2 separate regions of the Homo sapiens genome follow, and region 2 is linked to region 1. A link means that fine-mapping ties the variant in region 1 to the expression of a gene that starts in the linked region. Tissue or cell type: whole blood. Region 1 holds a variant in brackets; the other region holds the start of a gene. All regions are shown on one strand. Distances are between the middles of the regions. Region 1 has its middle 28 kb from the start of RAB33B-AS1. Region 2 holds the start of RAB33B-AS1 (RAB33B antisense RNA 1).

The links. PIP is the estimated chance that this variant, and not a neighbour inherited with it, causes the effect.
Region 2: RAB33B-AS1 starts here. The variant in region 1 is fine-mapped to the expression of RAB33B-AS1 in whole blood (TOPMed, PIP 0.95).

The regions. Positions count from the first base shown.
Region 1 is chr4:139,421,865-139,430,694 of GRCh38, reverse strand. It overlaps the pseudogene LOC100421868. Among named protein-coding and RNA genes, the nearest start is that of RAB33B-AS1, 28 kb to the left of the region's middle. The variant G/A (reference allele first, on the strand shown) is at 4,880.
Region 2 is chr4:139,449,050-139,457,879 of GRCh38, reverse strand. It overlaps RAB33B-AS1 (RAB33B antisense RNA 1), which reads left to right and starts at 3,839. Exons shown (of 1, transcript NR_159964.1): 1 at 3,839-6,205. It overlaps RAB33B (RAB33B, member RAS oncogene family), which reads right to left and starts at 3,759. Exons shown (of 2, transcript NM_031296.3): 1 at 3,436-3,759. The coding sequence starts at 3,684. RefSeq lists enhancers at 3,462-3,511, 4,132-4,471 and a silencer at 3,732-4,061.

The sequences.
Region 1 (8,830 bases):
GGGCATCAGCATCTCCCCTCCACTCACCCAGCAGATACATGTCAAGGCTCTAGATTTGTTGTCTGTGTCTATGATTGTTTCTGCTGCAAGCTGGCCAGATGAGTTCCCCTCCTGAGCCTGTGTGAACAGACTCCATCTTGGTCTGATATGGTTTGGGTCTCTGTCCCCACCCACATCTCACCTTGAATGGTAATCCCCATAATCCACACGTGTTGAAGGAGGGACCCAATAGGAGGTGACTGGATCATGGGGGCTGTTTCTCCCATGCTGCTCTCATGATAGTGAGTGAATTCTCATGAGATCTGATGGTTTTATAAGCGTCTGGCATTTCCCCTGCTTGCACTTCTCTCTCCTGCCACCATGTAAAGAAGGTATCTATGACAAACCCACAGCCAATATCATACTGAATGGGCAAAAACTGGAAGCATTCCCTTTGAAAACTGGCACAAGACAGGGATGCCCTCTCTCACCACTCCTATTCAACATAGTGTTGGAAGTTCTGGCCAGGGCAATTAGGCAGGAGAAGGAAATAAAGGGTATTCAATTAGGAAAAGAGGAAGTCAAATTGTCCCTGTTTGCAGATGACATGATTGTATATCTAGAAAACCCCATTGTCTCAGCCCAAAATCTCCTTAAGCTGATAAGCAACTTCAGCAAAGTCTCAGGATACAAAATCAATGTGCAAAAATCACAAGCATTCCTATACACCAACAACAGACAAACAGAGAGCCAAATCATGAGTGAACTCCCATTCACAATTGCTTCAAAGAGAATAAAATACCTAGGAATCCAACTTACAAGGGATGTGAAGGACCTCTTCAAGGAGAACTACAAACCACTGCTCAAGGAAATAAAAGAGGATACAAACAAATGGAAGAACATTTCATGCTCATGGGTAGGAAGAATCAATATCGTGAAAATGGCCATACTGCCCAAGGTAATTTACAGATTCAATGCCATCCCCATCAAGCTACCAATGCCTTTCTTCACACAACTGGAAAAAACTACTTTAAAGTTCATATGGAACCAAAAAAGAGCCCGCATCGCCAAGTCAATCCTAAGCCAAAAGAATAAAGCTGGAGGCATCACACTACCTGACTTCAAACTATGCTACAAGGCTACAGTAACCAAAACAGCAAGGTACTGTTACCAAAACAGAGATATAGATCAATGGAACAGAACAGAGCCCTCAGAAATAATGCCGCATGTCTACAACTATCTGATCTTTGACAAACCTGAGAAAAACAAGCAATGGGGAAAGGATTCCCTATTTAATAAATGGTGCTGGGAAAACTGGCTAGCCATATGGAGAAAGCTGAAACTGGATCCCTTCCTTACACCTTATACAAAAATCAATTCAAGATGGATTAAAGACTTAAACGTTAGACCTAAAACCATAAAAACCCTAGAAGAAAACCTAGGCATTATCATTCAGGACATAGGCATGGGCAAGGACTTCATGTCCAAAACACCAAAAGCAATGGCAACCAAAGCCAAAATTGACAAATGGGATCTAATTAAACTAAAGAGCTTCTGCACAGCAAAAGAAACTACCATCAGAGTGAACAGGCAACCTACAACATGGGAGAAAATTTTCGCACCCTACTCATCTGACAAAGGGCTAATATCCAGAATCTACAATGAACTCAAACAAATTTACAAGAAAAAAACAAACAACCCCATCAAAAAGTGGGCAAAGGACATGAACAGACACTTCTCAAAAGAAGACATTTATGCAGCCAAAAAACACATGAAAAAATGCTCATCATCACTGGCCATCAGAGAAATGCAAATCAAAACCACTATGAGATATCATCTCACACCAGTTAGAATGGCAATCATTAAAAAGTCAGGAAACAACAGGTGCTGGAGAGGATGTGGAGAAATAGGAACACTTTTACACTGTTGGTGGGACTGTAAACTAGTTCAACCATTGTAGAAGTCAGTGTGGCGATTCCTCAGGGATCTAGAACTAGAAATACCATTTGACCCAGCCATCCCATTACTGGGTATATACCCAAATGACTATAAATCATGCTGCTATAAAGACACATGCACACGTATGTTTATTGCGGCATTATTCACAATAGCAAAGACTTGGAACCAACCCAAATGTCCAACAATGATAGACTGTATTAAGAAAATGTGGCACATATACACCATGGAATACTATGCAGCCATAAAAAATGATGAGTTCATGTCCTTTGTAGGGACATGGATGAAATTGGAAATCATCATTCTCAGTAAACTATCGCAAGAACAAAAAACCAAACACCGCATATTCTCACTCATAGGCGGGAATTGAACAATGAGATCACATGGACACATGAAGGGGAATATCACACTCTGGGGACTGTGGTGGGGTGGGGGGAGGGGGGAGGGATAGCATTGGGAGATATACCTAAGGCTAGATGACGAGTTAGTGGGTGCAGCGCACCAGCATGGCACATGTATACATATGTAACTAACCTGCACAATGTGCACATGTACCCTAAAACTTAAAGTATAATTAAAAAAAAAAAAGAAAGAAAATGTGGCACATATACACCATGGAATACTATGCAGCCATAAAAAATGATGAGTTCATGTCCTTTGTAGGGACATGGATGAAATTGGAAATCATCATTCTCAGTAAACTATCGCAAGAACAAAAAACCAAACACCGCATATTCTCACTCATAGGTGGGAATTGAACAATGAGATCACATGGACACAGGAAGGGGAACATCACACTCTGGGGACTGTTGTGGGGTGGGGGGAGGGGGGAGGGATAGCATTGGGAGATATACCTAATGCTAGATGACGAGTTAGTGGGTGCAGCGCACCAGGATGGCACATGTATACGTATGTAACTAACCTGCACGTTGTGCACATGTACCCTAAAACTTGAAGTATAATAATAAATAATAATAATAATAATAATAATTGGGAGGAAATAAAGTGGTTAAGAAGAGAAAAAAAAAAAAAGAAGGTCCTTGCTTCCCCTTCACCTTCTGGCCATGATTGTAAGTTTCCTGAGCCCTCTCCAGCCACGTGGAACTGTGAGTCAATTAAACTCTTTCCTTTATAAATTACCCAGTCTCGGCCAGGTGCGGTGGCTCAAGCCTGTAACCAGTACTTTGGGAGGCTGAGGCGGGTGGATCACGAGGTCAGGTGTTCAAGACCAGCCTGACCAATATGGTGAAACCCCATCTCTACTAAAAATACAAAAATTAGCCAGGCGTGGTGGTACACGCCTGTAGTCCCAGCTACTTGGGAGGCTAAGGCAGGAGAATTGCTTGAACTCGGGAGGAAGAGGTTGCAGTGAGCCAAGATCGACCACTGCATTCCAGCCTGGGTGACAGAGCGAGACTCCATCTTGAGAAAATAAATAAATTACCCAGTCTCGGGTATTTCTTTATAGCAGTGTGAGAATAGACTAATACACAGTCCATCAGGGTATTGGGAAGACTGTGGTTTGCAAGAACACAGCAACATCAGTGGATGCCTTTTGGATGGTGATGGCCTTGTGTTAACTGCCTGCAGCTGATGAACGTGGTGGGGAACATGCTGCATTTCCTACCTGCCTTTGTGTGCAGGTGAAGCAACCAGTCTCGAAGCACTACGCAGGAGTGATGATGATCTGCGACACCTGCATCTACTCAGGCAGCCTGCTGAGCCCCAGCCATAGCTGGATCTGTGACGAGCTCACGGGCAGCAGGGGTCTGACACAATGGGGACCTACATCGTGGACCTGCTGACCCACCCGACCTTCTGGAGAGATGAGAAGTTGCACACACTGTCAAGACATACATGAGGCAGAGTGCCACCATCTGTGGCATCCAGCATGTCACCATTGATGACTTCTGTTTCAAAAAAAAAAAAAAAAAACTACCTGCCGAAACAGGATTCAACACTGTGTAAAAGAAGGAAACAACTTCACAACATCAAGATACTAAGCAATGTAGCAGTTACAACTATACAATAAAAAATTACTAGACACATGAAGATTCAACAAAATATGATCCATACCAGAAGAAAAATCAGTCAATAGAATCAGAAATGACAGAGATCATGGAATTAGCACAAAAAAAACCATTAAAACAGCTATTACTAATATAATTAAGAATTTACAAGAAAATATGAACATAAGAAAAAATGAAGATATGAAAAACAATGAAATGCAGCTTTTAGACTTATGTAATGCAATATCTGAAAAAAATTTAAATCACTGTAGGAGCTTAAAGCAAATTTAATGTAGAAGAAAAGATTGATGACCTTGAAGACATAGCAATAGAAGCTATTCAAGCTGTAGCACACAGAGAAAAATACACCAAAAAGCCAAACTGCTATGAGTGTCTGCAGAAATAAACTTCAGTAGATGTGTAACTCCAAGGACTGTAGGTAGTGGAATTGACAGATATGAAAAGTATAGAATTTCTGTGTTCTGAATATTTTAAAAGGTAAAGGATGTTATAAAGATGAGCAAGAGATTACCAGGAATGGACAGACAGGTTGGAAGGTAGTTGGGAGATGGGGAGATGCTCTAGAAATATAAAATATAATTGTTAGAATAACAAAACTCAGTGGAAAGGTTAAAGAGCAAATTTGATACAGATGAAGAGAGAATTAATAAATGAAGCCACTGAGGTGGCTCATGCCTATAATCCCAGCACTTTGGGAGGCCGAGGTGAGACGATCACTTGAGGCTAGGAGTTCAAGACCAACCTGGACAACATGGTGAGACCCTGTCTCTACAAAAAAGTTTAAAAATTAGCTGGGCATGTTAGTGTATGCCTGTAGTCCTAGCTACTCAAAAGGCTAAAGCAGAGCATGACTTGAGCCCAGGAGTTTGAGGCTTCAGAGTGCTATGATTATGCCACTGTGCTCCAGCTTGGGC[G/A]ACTGAGGGAGACCTTGTCTCTTAAAAAATAAATGAGAAGATATCTTTAAAAATTACCCAGGGTATACTAAGGAGAGACAAGGAAGTAAAAATATGAAAACAATATTAAGAGATGGAAGCTTGGATAAGAAAGTCACACATATGACTAATTGAAATCTCAGAAAGAAAGAAAAGAAGGAAAAAAGTAGAGGCAATACTCCCTGCCCCCTAATATTTTGTGAAATTGTTCAAACATACAGAAAAGTTGAAAGAATTACACAGTGAACTTTTACATTTACCAATTAATTCTAGAACATTTTGTTATATTTACTGTATCATATAGCTATCCACTTAACCATCCATCAATCCTATTTTTTATGCATTTCAGAGTAAGTTGTAGACATCACCACTAAACATTTTAGTATGTTCATCATTAGTATTCAGTATTGTTCTATAGCTTTTTTGTATTTAAAATGTACATACAATAAAATGCACAGATCTTAAGTACAATATTTGGTAAATTTTTACAAGTGCATATACCTGTGTAACACAAACTGTCAAAAAAAACCATATACTGCTCTTCAGAAAATTCCCTTATGCCCCTTGCTAGTCAATCCCTGCCCTTTACCTCCCACTGGTAAGAAGTGTTCTAATGAGAGGTATCATTTAGATAAATAGTGCTGTGATTTTTGCAGAAATGATGAAAAAAATGAATTAACAGATCTGGGAGTCACAAGATAATGAAAGCAGGATACATAAACAGAAATGTATAATGACATTGTATAAAGAACCTGCAGAATTTGTAAGATCTTACAAGCAGCTAGAAAGGGCAGATCACTTGCAAAAGAACAGCAGTGAAAATGACAGTGGATTTATTATCAGCATCAATGGAAACCAGAAGTTAATGGAATAATACCTTTCAAGTGCCAAAAGATAATGGTCAACTAGAATTATGTACTTGCCCAGACTACCTTTTAAGAAGAGTGAAATAGAGACATTTAAAGATAAGTGATAATTGAGAGTTTAGCTCAGAGATATGCACAAAACTCCTAAATGACATATAGTCATGCACTACATGACAAAGTTTTGGTCAATAACAGACCGCATATACAATGGTGGTCCCATAAGATTATATTGGCTGAGTATTGCTAATCCAAAAATCCAAAATCCAAAATACTCCAAAATTTGAAACTTTTTGAGTGCCAACATGATACTCAAAGGAAAGGTTCCTTGGAACATTTCTTTGGATTTTCAGGTTAGGGATGCTCAACACTAAGTATCATGCAAATATTCCAAAATAAAAAAAAAATTCAAAACCAAAATTTTCTTGTCCTAAGGATTTAGGATTAGGGATACGCAACCTGTAATACTGTATTTTTACTGGACCTTTTCTATGTTTAGATATACAAATACATACTCGTATTACAGTTGCCTATTCAGTACAGTAATATGCTATACAGGTTTGTAGCCTAGGAGCAAAAGGCTATGCCATATAGTCTAAATATGTAGTAGGCTATACCATCTAGGTTTGTGTAAGTACAGTCTGTGGTTTGCACAATGATGAAATCACGTAAGGACACATTTCACCTTTCTCAGAATGTATCCCATCATTAAGTGATGTGTGACTGTAGTTGAGAGATAGTATTTCACAGGAGTTAAGAATATGCACTTTGGAGACTCCATAGGTGTGAATCCCTATTCCACCATTTGCTAGCTGTGGAACACTGGACAAGTGAGTTAACACCTCTGTGCTTCAGTTTTTTTTCTCACTTGTAAAATTTTGACAATAATTGTATTCATGGAATTGTTATGAGGATTAAATGAACTAATATAAAATAAAGCACTTAGAACCAAACCTGGAATATAAGTGCTTTGTTAAGTCAGAGCTTAAAAAAAGGAAATTATCATAAAAGAATGGTCTGAAGTACAAAATAGAATGGTGAGTGAATAAAATGGTGAACAAGCTTGTCAGTCCAAACATCAGTCTAGAAAAATAAGGTCCGATTTGTGAAGTTTTGAACTAATGCCTCCAATAACAATAGCAAGTAGGCATTTGGGGGAGGGTCAATGTAATTAAAATTATTCTAAGATCATTACTTCGTTTCAAAGGAAAGTTAAGATATGTTTGCCTTTACATTTTGTTAAGTTAGACACTTATAAAATGCAGGGACAGTTGTTAAAAAAAAAAGGAATAAATACAGAGCTATGAATTCCAATTCAGTGGAGGAAAAATGGAATTTAAAAAATCTAACCATAAAGTCAGTTTTTTAAAAATGCAGAAACAGCCAGCGCCGTGGCTCACGCCTGTAATCCCAGCACTTTGGGAGGCTGAGACGGGCAGATCACGAGGTCAGGAGATCGAGACCATCCTGGCTAACACGGTGAAACCCCGTCTCTACTAAAAATACAAAAAATTAGCCAGACATGGTGGCGGGCGCCTGTAGTCCCAGCTACTTGGGAGGCTGAGGCAGGAGAATGGCATGAACCCGGGAGGCAGAGCTTGCAGTGAGCCGAGATCACGCCACTGCACTCCAGCCTGGGCGACAGAGCGAGACTCCGTCTCAAAAAAAAAAAAAAATGCAAAAACGTTGGGGCTATAAAAATAGTAGCTCAGAAAAAGCAAGGCAAATATAAACAAAAAAGATATATAAACAAATCCAACTATATCAAGAATCACAATAAACATAAATGTATGACATTTACCAATTAAAAGATAGAGTTTGTCAGACTGAAATGAAAAGAAAAATCTAGCTGTATGACATATACAAGAATCTGAAAACATACAGGCAAAACAGTAGAAGATAAGAGATAGAAAAACATATACCAGGCAGATCTTAATACAAAGAATTCACATACATACATTAATTTCAGAAAAAAGATTTTAAGACAAAAAAAGATTATTAGAATAAAAAGGTCATTACCTACTGATAAAAGGTTTTTTTCACCAGAAAAAAAACAGAAAAATTCTAATCCTGTTTGTAACTAATAAAATGGACTTAAGCTATATACAGCAAAAAATGTTAGAACTACAGGAGGTGGCAAATTTCTATGCAACTCTCTCAGTTCTTGATAGGTTAAACAAACAAAAACCAGTGCATTGGTCTAGGCCCTGGGAATACAGAAGTGAACAGGCAGACCATCACCTGCATGCTAGTGGGAAGATAAATTAACAAAAATATCAAATTTTGGATAATGATAAATGAATGAAGAAAAAATCAAATATAAAGGTAGAATCTAATGGGAAGAGGTGGTTATTTTATGAGGGTGGTTAAGGGAAGGCTTCCTTGAAGAGGTGGCATTTATGCGGACACATGAATTAGTTGAGGGAGCAAATGATGTGTATATATAGGGGAATATTTTTTCAGACAAAAGGAAAAGCAACTGGAAAGACCCTGAGGCAAACATGAGTTTCACATAATGCAAATATACATATTTAGCTTTTTGAATCTGCTTAGAATGTCTTTTCCCCCCATTTTAAGTAGAATGTAGAAACCTTACATATAGGTCTACTTAACCTGTACCCCTTACGTTAGAGTTGTCATGAATTACGTCTACATATGTTTAAAACCCCATTAGACAATGGTACAGTTATTTTCAACCATCAAATATATTTTTAAAGAACTTAGTACCTGTCAATGATAGACTAGATGTGGCACATATACACCATGGAACACTATGCAGCCATAAAAAAGGATGAGTTAATGTCCTTTGCAGGGACATGGATGAAGCTAGAAACCATCATTCTCAGCAAACTAACACAGGAACAGAAAACCAAACGCCACATGTTCTCACTCATAAGTGGGAGTTGAACAATGAGAACATATGGACACAGGGAGGGGAACATCACACACCGGGGCCTGTTGGGGGATGGGGTACTAGGGGAGGGATAGCATTAGGAGAAATACCTAATGTAGATGATGGGTTGATGGGTGCAGCAAACCACCATGGCACATATATACCTATGTAACCTGC
Region 2 (8,830 bases), 27 kb before region 1:
AGAGAGGGGTGAGAGTACAAGGATAAGAAGGATTAAAGTAGTACAACCTAGGTGAATTTTGAATTTCATATGATTTTCATGTCATGAAATCTTGATATTTTCCCTAAACATTAAAAAATGTAAAAAATCATTCTTAGATTGTGGCCATGTAAAAACAGGCAAAAGACCATTTTTGGCCCTCAAGCATAGTTTGCTGACCCTTGTGCCGTATCATAATTCTCTGTGCTTATCAAAATGTCTTCTTTCCAGCAATTACTCATTAAATATTTGTTTTACCAGTGTGGGGAGAGGTCCTGATTATTTTCCTTTAGTTAATATTAACATTTTGCACTTAACATGGGAACATTTCATTTCTACCGCTACAAAAAAGTAAGCTACTAAAATGTTCAAGTAGGACCTGCTGACCTCTAATGGGAGGCCGGATTAAATACAACACCAGGCTTTAATGGGTTGGTGTGTCTGCCACTGGAAAATGATTGTGCTAAAGGAATACAATTAGTCATGAAGGGGATATACACACGAGGAAGGAGCATAAGGATTAGAGTTAGGAGTCTCAATTTAAAAGCCGAATGTATTTGTATTTAAGGAATTTAATTTTATAATTTTATTCGACTTCCAAAATTTTGCAAACAAGATTTTCCTCTTTCAACTACCTGCACATACTGCTTAGGAATGGATTAGCAGATATAGGCTTTCTTAAATTTCATAAAACATTTTAACGGATTCTGAAAGGGCACTGTTGTTAAGTCATGCTTTCTGAAAATTTTCTAGTCCATGATTATCAAAACATTTAACGCAATATCTCATTTTTATCAAAGAAATAATGTCTAGAATGGCATTTTACTAGTAAAGTAATAGAGCTTTCCAGCTTTGAGATGAAAAATTAGGAAAAATGTCATTTTAGATCAGGCTACAATTTTCCAAAGACGTAATATGAACATTTCAGCAGCACTCAAGATGTATTACAGGTTAACCAAAAAGCAGCAGAAGCAGCACATAGAATAAAGCTCTTTATATCACTTTTCAGTTTTCGAAAAAAAGGGCACTAAAAAAAATTAAGCTCTGTGGTTTTAAAAAATGCCCAACATAGCTATATCTTTTCCTACTATAGAAACCTCAGAACATGTCTGTAGTCATTTCAACCACAATAAAAATCTCTCTCAAGTCTCACCATTGGTGGCACAAATCAACGGCTAGGGCCTTAGAAGAAAAATGATCTCAGTATTCAAGTCCATATCAATGTAACAAGTTAGGCTAAAGTTCAGTAGAAATAATCTCCCCAAAAAATATCATCTCCTTGCTCTTCCCAACCAGAATTATCAACTCTGTGCTCCCAGATTCGTCATACCTGTGGTTCTGTCTTATTTATCACTGCCAGCACTCACCTCAGTAGTTAGGTAATTGACTTTATACACTGCACATGCTTTATATTTTTTCAATACTATTATCTCTTAAATTTGCACCTGATTCATCTGTTATCTTTAAGTATAAATGGCAACCCAGGAACAGATAAAGGGCCCTCAAATCCCAACTCCTCCCCCACCCTCATTCTCTCCACTTTTGAAAGAATTTCCTACTTCCGTTTTTGTTTTTGTTTTGTTTTTTAAATTTCTCTCCCCTTAGCTGTCTACCTATGCCCTCCACTATCTCTGCTTTCAACTTTGGGTGTACAACTGCAGAACTAATGGTGGCAAACAGGAAAAATAATGTTAAGCCACCAGGAAAGACAAAGAATCTTTTTAAAGGCACCAACTATGAACCAGGTGCTTCATATATGTCCTCATCTGATCCTCACAGCAGCCTGATAAGGTATCATGATCCCAGTTTTTCGGAAGAAAAATACAGACTCTGAGAGGTTAAAGAATCTGCCTAAGGTCCAGGGTGACCAACTATTTTGGTGTGCCCAATACAGGGGGTCCCCGGGATGTGAGACCCAGTTTTAAAACCTGGACAGTCTTGGGCAAAGTTGGTCACCCTAGTAAGGACACGCAGCCCATCCCTACCCTTTCGTAGGTTCAGATATGAATCCAGGTTAGTTGGGCTCCAAAGCCCACGTACTTCCCAGATTCCTGCTTCTCCCAATCTTAACTCCCTTGGAACTTCAGAAGCTCCATTATTTTTCACCCCAAAGGCTTCTGGGCCAAACCTAATTCTGGTGAAAAATGTTTAGCCTTTTATTCTATCTTTTCTTCTGCAAGTATACAAATCTTTCTAAATTCCCTAATACAAAGCAACTCCAAAACCACCACTGAGAGCTCATATGGGACATGAAATACTAATGTGAAAAATTAAAAGACAGAAGCACCAAAGAAAGGTTAATTTCTTTTAACCCAGCTTACTTCACCTCTACCATCATTAGCAGTATAACCCGTTGGGGTGGGGGGCGATGATTAGGGAACTGAAAAATAAATTGTTCTTGCCTCTAAGATACGAGGGTAGGAACGTCTAAAGCAAGCCTGTTCTCCCACCACTCCCCATCCCCACCAAGAGACTGAGATAAAGACGATCGCTGATTTAAAGCAGTAGTATAAGGCAAGGTGGTTCCACCTATGTTTTAAGGAGTGGCATCAACAGGTGGCATTTAGTGGTGGCTTGCTATGAAGGTGTGTCTAAGGTTTATACCATCAAGAGGCCTAAGCCTTGTCATTGATCCTCATTCCACTGTTAGATTCCAACCCCTCAGAACTTCAAACCTGCCCTGGGGCCTATACTACCTTCTCCACTATTACTGTCACTCAGTGTCCCCAGTCCCAGGGACCAAAAATAACGACTTAAAGGGAATAAAGAATTGGGCGTGTGTCTGAGGTGGCATCATGAGAAATGCTTTTGGCAACCTGAGTAGGAACTATCACATATAGAATGTTTCTGCAGGAAAATAGATTTTTCTAAAATCAGTATCATAAAGAAACTACTACAGCAAAACTGTATGCAAGAGAATACCTAAGTACTTCCTCAAAGGCAATAGGCTTTACTTCCACAACATCTAAGGCACTGCTCGAATGAATGTTTAATAACTATTACTGATTAAATGAATTTTCCATTCTCGCGCAATTTCACTGTTTTTCCTCCGTTCATATTTGACTGACTCCCAGCACACGACACACACAGTAAATGGGTCGGTAGATAAGCCCTACACTCCTGAACTCAAAGTGTGGTCCACGGACTAGCTGCACCTGCATCATCAGCGAGATTATTAAATCATAGCCTGCATTTTCAAAAACAAGATCCCCAGGTAAATCGCATGCACAATGAAGTCTGAGAAACGCTGCCTTAGAAGTTTGCAGTATTGCAATCCTTCCAATCCCCAACTCCAATCTCATCAGCGTGAGAAAAAAATGGAGCGCACACACACCGTGCACACGGCCAGCGACCAGCCCACGGTGGGGTTGGGACACCTGTCACCCTGTCCTCCCCAACAGTTCCCCATCCGCTCACCTTGATGCGCTCCCCATCAATCTCCACCGCTCGTTCTCGGAAATCCACCCCTATCGTGGCCTCGGTGCGGTCGGGGAAGCGGCCAGCGCAGAAGCGGTAGGTCAGGCATGTCTTGCCCACATTGGAGTCGCCGATCACGATTATCTTGAAGATGCGGGAGCGGGCAGGAGGCAAAAACCCTGAGGCCCCTGACACTGCCCCGCTGGACGAAAAGCTTGCCTCGAGCGACGACTCCATCTCCTCAGCCATTCCCCCGACCCGCCCCAAACTGAGGCGGAGGAAAGGAGACACAGAAAGGCTGAGAGATTACGCCACCGCAAGAGCGCGCGCCCAGCCGGCCAGTTCGGCTGCGCAACTTCCCAGGAGCCACCGCCCACCAGCCCCGAGCGCGCCTGCGCACCTTCCCGCCCCGCCCTTGCCCGCACAGGTGTGGCACCCGCCCGCCCCGCCGCACGGAGCCGCCTGCCCGCGGCCACACGCCAGGCGTCACTCGGGCTGGCGCCGGTCTACCTAGGCAGGCGTGGGACCTGTCGGGGGCTTCACGGCAGCGCGGAAGGCCAGCCTGCAGAGAGGCTGGGCCCAGCGCCCTGACTGACCCAGCCCCGCCACGTCCAAGGTTCCCGCCCTCTGGAGGAAGCCGCGCAATCACTCCGGGGGCGGGGAGAGACAGACAACTGAGAGGAAGGAGGTACCACGGGCACTCTCTCGCGAGAGGGCCGCAGAGCCGCCTTTGACGGGGGCGTGTACCTGGAGAGCAACGGTAAGGACGGAGCCGACGGCTCCGGCGTCGGGTCGGTTCCGGCATCGACGTATCGTTTGGTCGCCCCAGAGAGGAGACAGGTTTCTTCAGCTTGCCGCTGAGGATGTGGCATCGGCTGCGCTCACCGCCGCCGCCTCTGTGAACTGCGGGAGTTGGGACAGCGGCCAGGGCTAGATGGGTGGGACGCGAGTCCTCGCCGAAAGCTTGCCCTGTGCGGGGCGCACTTGGAGGCGAGCTCTGGGCCGTGGCGAGTTTTGCAGCCTAAGGTCTTGGCAGGCGCATTGCTGTGGGCTGCCGGAGAGCAGGCTGGAGTTCGAGACCGCCCACCGGAGAGCAGGCGAGAGTTCGAGGCCTAGGTACAGCGCATTTCGCTAGGCATCCCCAAGAATATCCGCGTGATCCTTGTGGCCAGAGTTTGTTGAGCTAATATCCCCAGCCCAAACAGTAGAGCACATCACATGTCGGCCACCTGGGAGCGTTGAACCTGGTAGTTACTAGGCGCCCCTGGTGGAAATAAAACTCATTATGCCCTAGTTATGTCTTAGTGCCTGGGTGACGATGATGTAGCGGTTAAAGATTAACTGAGCGCACTTAGAGGTTGTCTTTGTCTACCTAAGGAAAATATCAATAGATTAAACCCCCAACCTTAAAGAATCTCCGTGAATTTTTCTGAGGAAACGTGCAATATTGTCATACAAAAGGCCCCAAATATGCAAACATTGCTTTTTGTTAAAAGTTTGTTTTGTTTTGCAGTGACATCTGTTTGAGCAGATGAATATGCCATTGGGAAAGTCAAGGACTGTCGGAGAGGAGGACATGGCAGACCTTAACTAAAGTGAGGGGGACAGTAGAGCACTAAAAGTTCTAGGAAAGGAGATGAACTGCTTATTCCATCAGATGAAAATATAGTCAGAACAGATGAGTAGTAGAACTTAAACATGCCCGGAGTTGCCAGGAATTTGCAAAAGCCTTGATATAATTCCTGTTGCTGTAGAAAGACTTTCTACAGTCACTAATATATCAAGTTATGTTCACTAGAAAAAAAGTTTACTTAGTTTATAGAAATGGGCTGAAAAATCCTAATTACTTATCTGTGAGGTTATTTTCATGAAGGTTAATCATCCAGAAACTATTAGAGAGCCTCGGAATATATTTCTTCTAATCTGCTCTACCTATCCCATTCAAAGGAGGGAATCTGAAGATTTAAGGACAAAGAGCAGTTGAAAACTCAGAGCTGTGGTTAATGGGAGAATTTCAAGGATGGTGAAAAAAACTAACATCATTGCATCCCTGTTTTTTGTATTCTGGACTTTTTAGTTTAGCTCTTGGTAAACTACATCAGAAATTCTTTATGCTAACTCTAACACACATTTTGGGGTATTGCTAATTTAATCTTTGAATACTGTTTTTGCTGTTTCATGATTATATGTTATGTCCTACCAGCTAGATTGCCAACTCTTGACTACTGACTGGAAGTTTATTGTTTATTCAGCAAATAATGAATTAAGTCAGTGAAGTGAGAGATTTCGTGTGTAAGGATTGTTAACTTGAACATTTCACCAGTTACACACAGTTCAGCCCTACTTAAATTTTAAAAATCATTGTTGGCACTTGACATTGTTATGAGGAGTTTTGTATTTTCAACTTGTATTTTGAGAGTGTCCTCATGTGACTGAAGTATGTGCTACTCTTCTTAATTGAATAACCCCAGAATCTCCAGAATTGATAATTGGAGGAAATTCTACTGTTGGAAAGAATGGATGGATTATACAGCCCTGTTTTTTGACTGTTCATTTTGTCCTTGGAGTCACTACCACTTGGCCTCAAAGTGTGAACATGTAACCCTTTCCTTAATACTTTGCTACACAGCTGAGCAGAAACTGTAAATTTGGATCCTTTGTCAGTACAACTTAAAATGGAACAATTTCAATGGCTTAGGGTAAGATAAGTATGTAAAGATACTTTTGTAATAGAAGAAAAAACATTGGATATTAAAATCACACAGTAGTACCTGGGTGTGGTGGCTCATGCCTATAATCCCAACGCTTTGGGAGGCCAAGACAGGAGCACTGCTGGAGGCCAGGAATTTGAGACCAGCCTGGCCAACATGGTGAAACCTCGTCTCTACCAAAAAATACAAAAATCAGCCAGGTGTGGTGGCACATGCCTGTAATCCCGGATACTCGGGAGGCTGAGGTGGGAGAATCGCTTGAACCAGGGAGGTGGAGGTTGCAGTGAGCTGAAATCGCAAAACTGCACTCCAACCTGGGCAACAGAGTGAGACCTCCTGTCTCCAAAAAAAAAAAAAAAAAAAAAAAAAAGTGGGTGTGGTTGTGTACACCTCTACTTCCTGCTACTCAGGAGGCTGAGGCTGGAGGATCTCTTGAGCCCAGGAGTTCAAGTCTGCAGTGAGCTATAGTTGCACTGCTGCACTCCAGCCTGGGTAGCACAGCGAGACCCCCATCTCTAAAACATAAAAGTAAACAGGCTGGGTGCAGTGGCTTACACCTGTAATCCCAGCACTTTGGGAGGCCGAGGAGGGTGGATCATGAGGTCAAGAGTTGAGACCAGCCTGGCCAACGTGGCGAAACCCCATCTGTACTAAAAATACAAAAATTAGCCAGTCGTGGTGCCAGGTGCCTTTAATCCCAGCTATTCAGGAGGCTGAGACAGGAGAATCGCTTGAACCTGGGAGACAGAGGTTGCAGTGAGCCAAGATCATGCCATTGCACTTCAGCCTCGGGGACAAGAACAAGACTGTGTCTCAAAAAAAAAAAAAAAAGTAGAAAACAGAATAGCATAAGGATAATCTTATATACAAAATAAGACTACTCAATTTCTGAATTTTTTTTTTAACTAGATATGCCACCTCCTGATGACAGTGCCCATTTCGTAACTTGTCTTACTCAGAAACAGCTCTTAGATAATTTTACTCTTTAAGTTCAGGTCTGAGCACAGAGGACAAAGAATTCCCTTGATTGCCTATGAAAGAAAGGATTCTCAACCTTGGCACTATTGACATTTTAAGTCAGATAATTCTTTGTTGTGGAAGGTTATCCTGTGCATTGTAGGATGTTTATTTTATCAGCATCCCTGGCTTCTACCCAGTAAATCCCAGTAGCACCCCACCACCAACCAAAACTGTCTCAAAATGTTGCTAGATGCCCCTTGGGGACAAAAATCCTCTCCCTCCCTCCTCCTTGAATGCCACTGGCACTCCTTGAGCCTACAGAAGGGCTCTTCTCACAAGTTTGATACCCTGTACCTCCCAGTTGATAGTGGGAATTACTTCTCCTTTGAAGACACAATTCCAGTTACCCTGAGAAGTATGGCATTGGCCTTGCTGGCCTCCACCAAATTACTATATCACTGTGTTTGGTAACCCCAGACATCATACTAGGGCTTTAATTTCAGTATATAAATAGTAAATTAGTATCCTTGTATAGGTTAGCTTAATGAGTTTCAGAATTCTTCAAGTCATATCTTCATAGGTAGGATCACTGTGGAGTTAATGGCATTTGAACTATGTACTCAGTACTATGCTAGTGGTTGGTGCAAGGGGAAGATACAAAATAAGGTGTGATTTTAGCCCATGAGGAATTTATACTTTATCTGCAGAAGCAAATTAATATGGAACCGTTAGTGAACACCTGGATAAAACAGAATGCTAAATTTTACCCTAGAGGTGCTTGGCCTGGACTTCAAGAATTCTAAGTGAATTGAAGTATGTTCACAGTAAGAAAGGTTAAAAATGGCTCTGCCCACTTGTAGGCAGATGGGAAGCTAGGATGGCAGACTTGCCAATATTTGATATATGTAAAAAGTGCAATCATGGCCTCTGTTGTTTCCTCTTTTATCTCGTTCTCTTTATTAGTCCAGGTTCTCTAGAGGAATAGAACTAATAGGAGATATATATATATATATATATGGAGTTTATTAAGTAGTATTAACTCACATGATCACAAGGTCCCAGAATAGGCCATATGCAAGCTGAGGAGAAAGGAAGGCAGTCGAGTTTCAAAGCTGAAGAACATGGAGTCCAATGTTTGAGGACGGGAAGCATCCAACATGGGAGAAAGCTGTAGGCTGGGAGGCTAAGCCAGTCTAGTCTTTTCATGTTTTTCTGCCTGCTTTATATTCTGGTCGTGCTGGCAGCTGATTAGATGGTGCCCGCCCAGATTAAGGGTGGGTCTGCCTTTCCCAGCCCACTAACTCAAATGTTAATCTCCTTTGGTAACACTCTCACAGACACATTCAGGATCGATACTTTGCATCCTTTAATCCAATCAAGTTGACTGTATTAACCATCACAAGTCCACCACTTGTCAACTTAAACACATACATATCTCCTGAGATCATTCATAATCTTCAAATAAAGACAATAATAATGTCATAATTACACCTAATACAACTATCCTTTGTACAGCTGGAAACACACCAGTCCCCAACCCAAATGCTATTACATAAAGTTAACAATACTTAAATGCTGATATGAAGTAAATCTTAATGTCCCATGATAAAAGGAGGCTGGGCGCAGTGGCTCACGCCTGTAATCCCAGCACTTTGGGAGGCCGAGATGAGTAATGGCTTTTGACAGTAATAGAGGGTCTCAACCTGATTTTTCTTAAGTTTGCA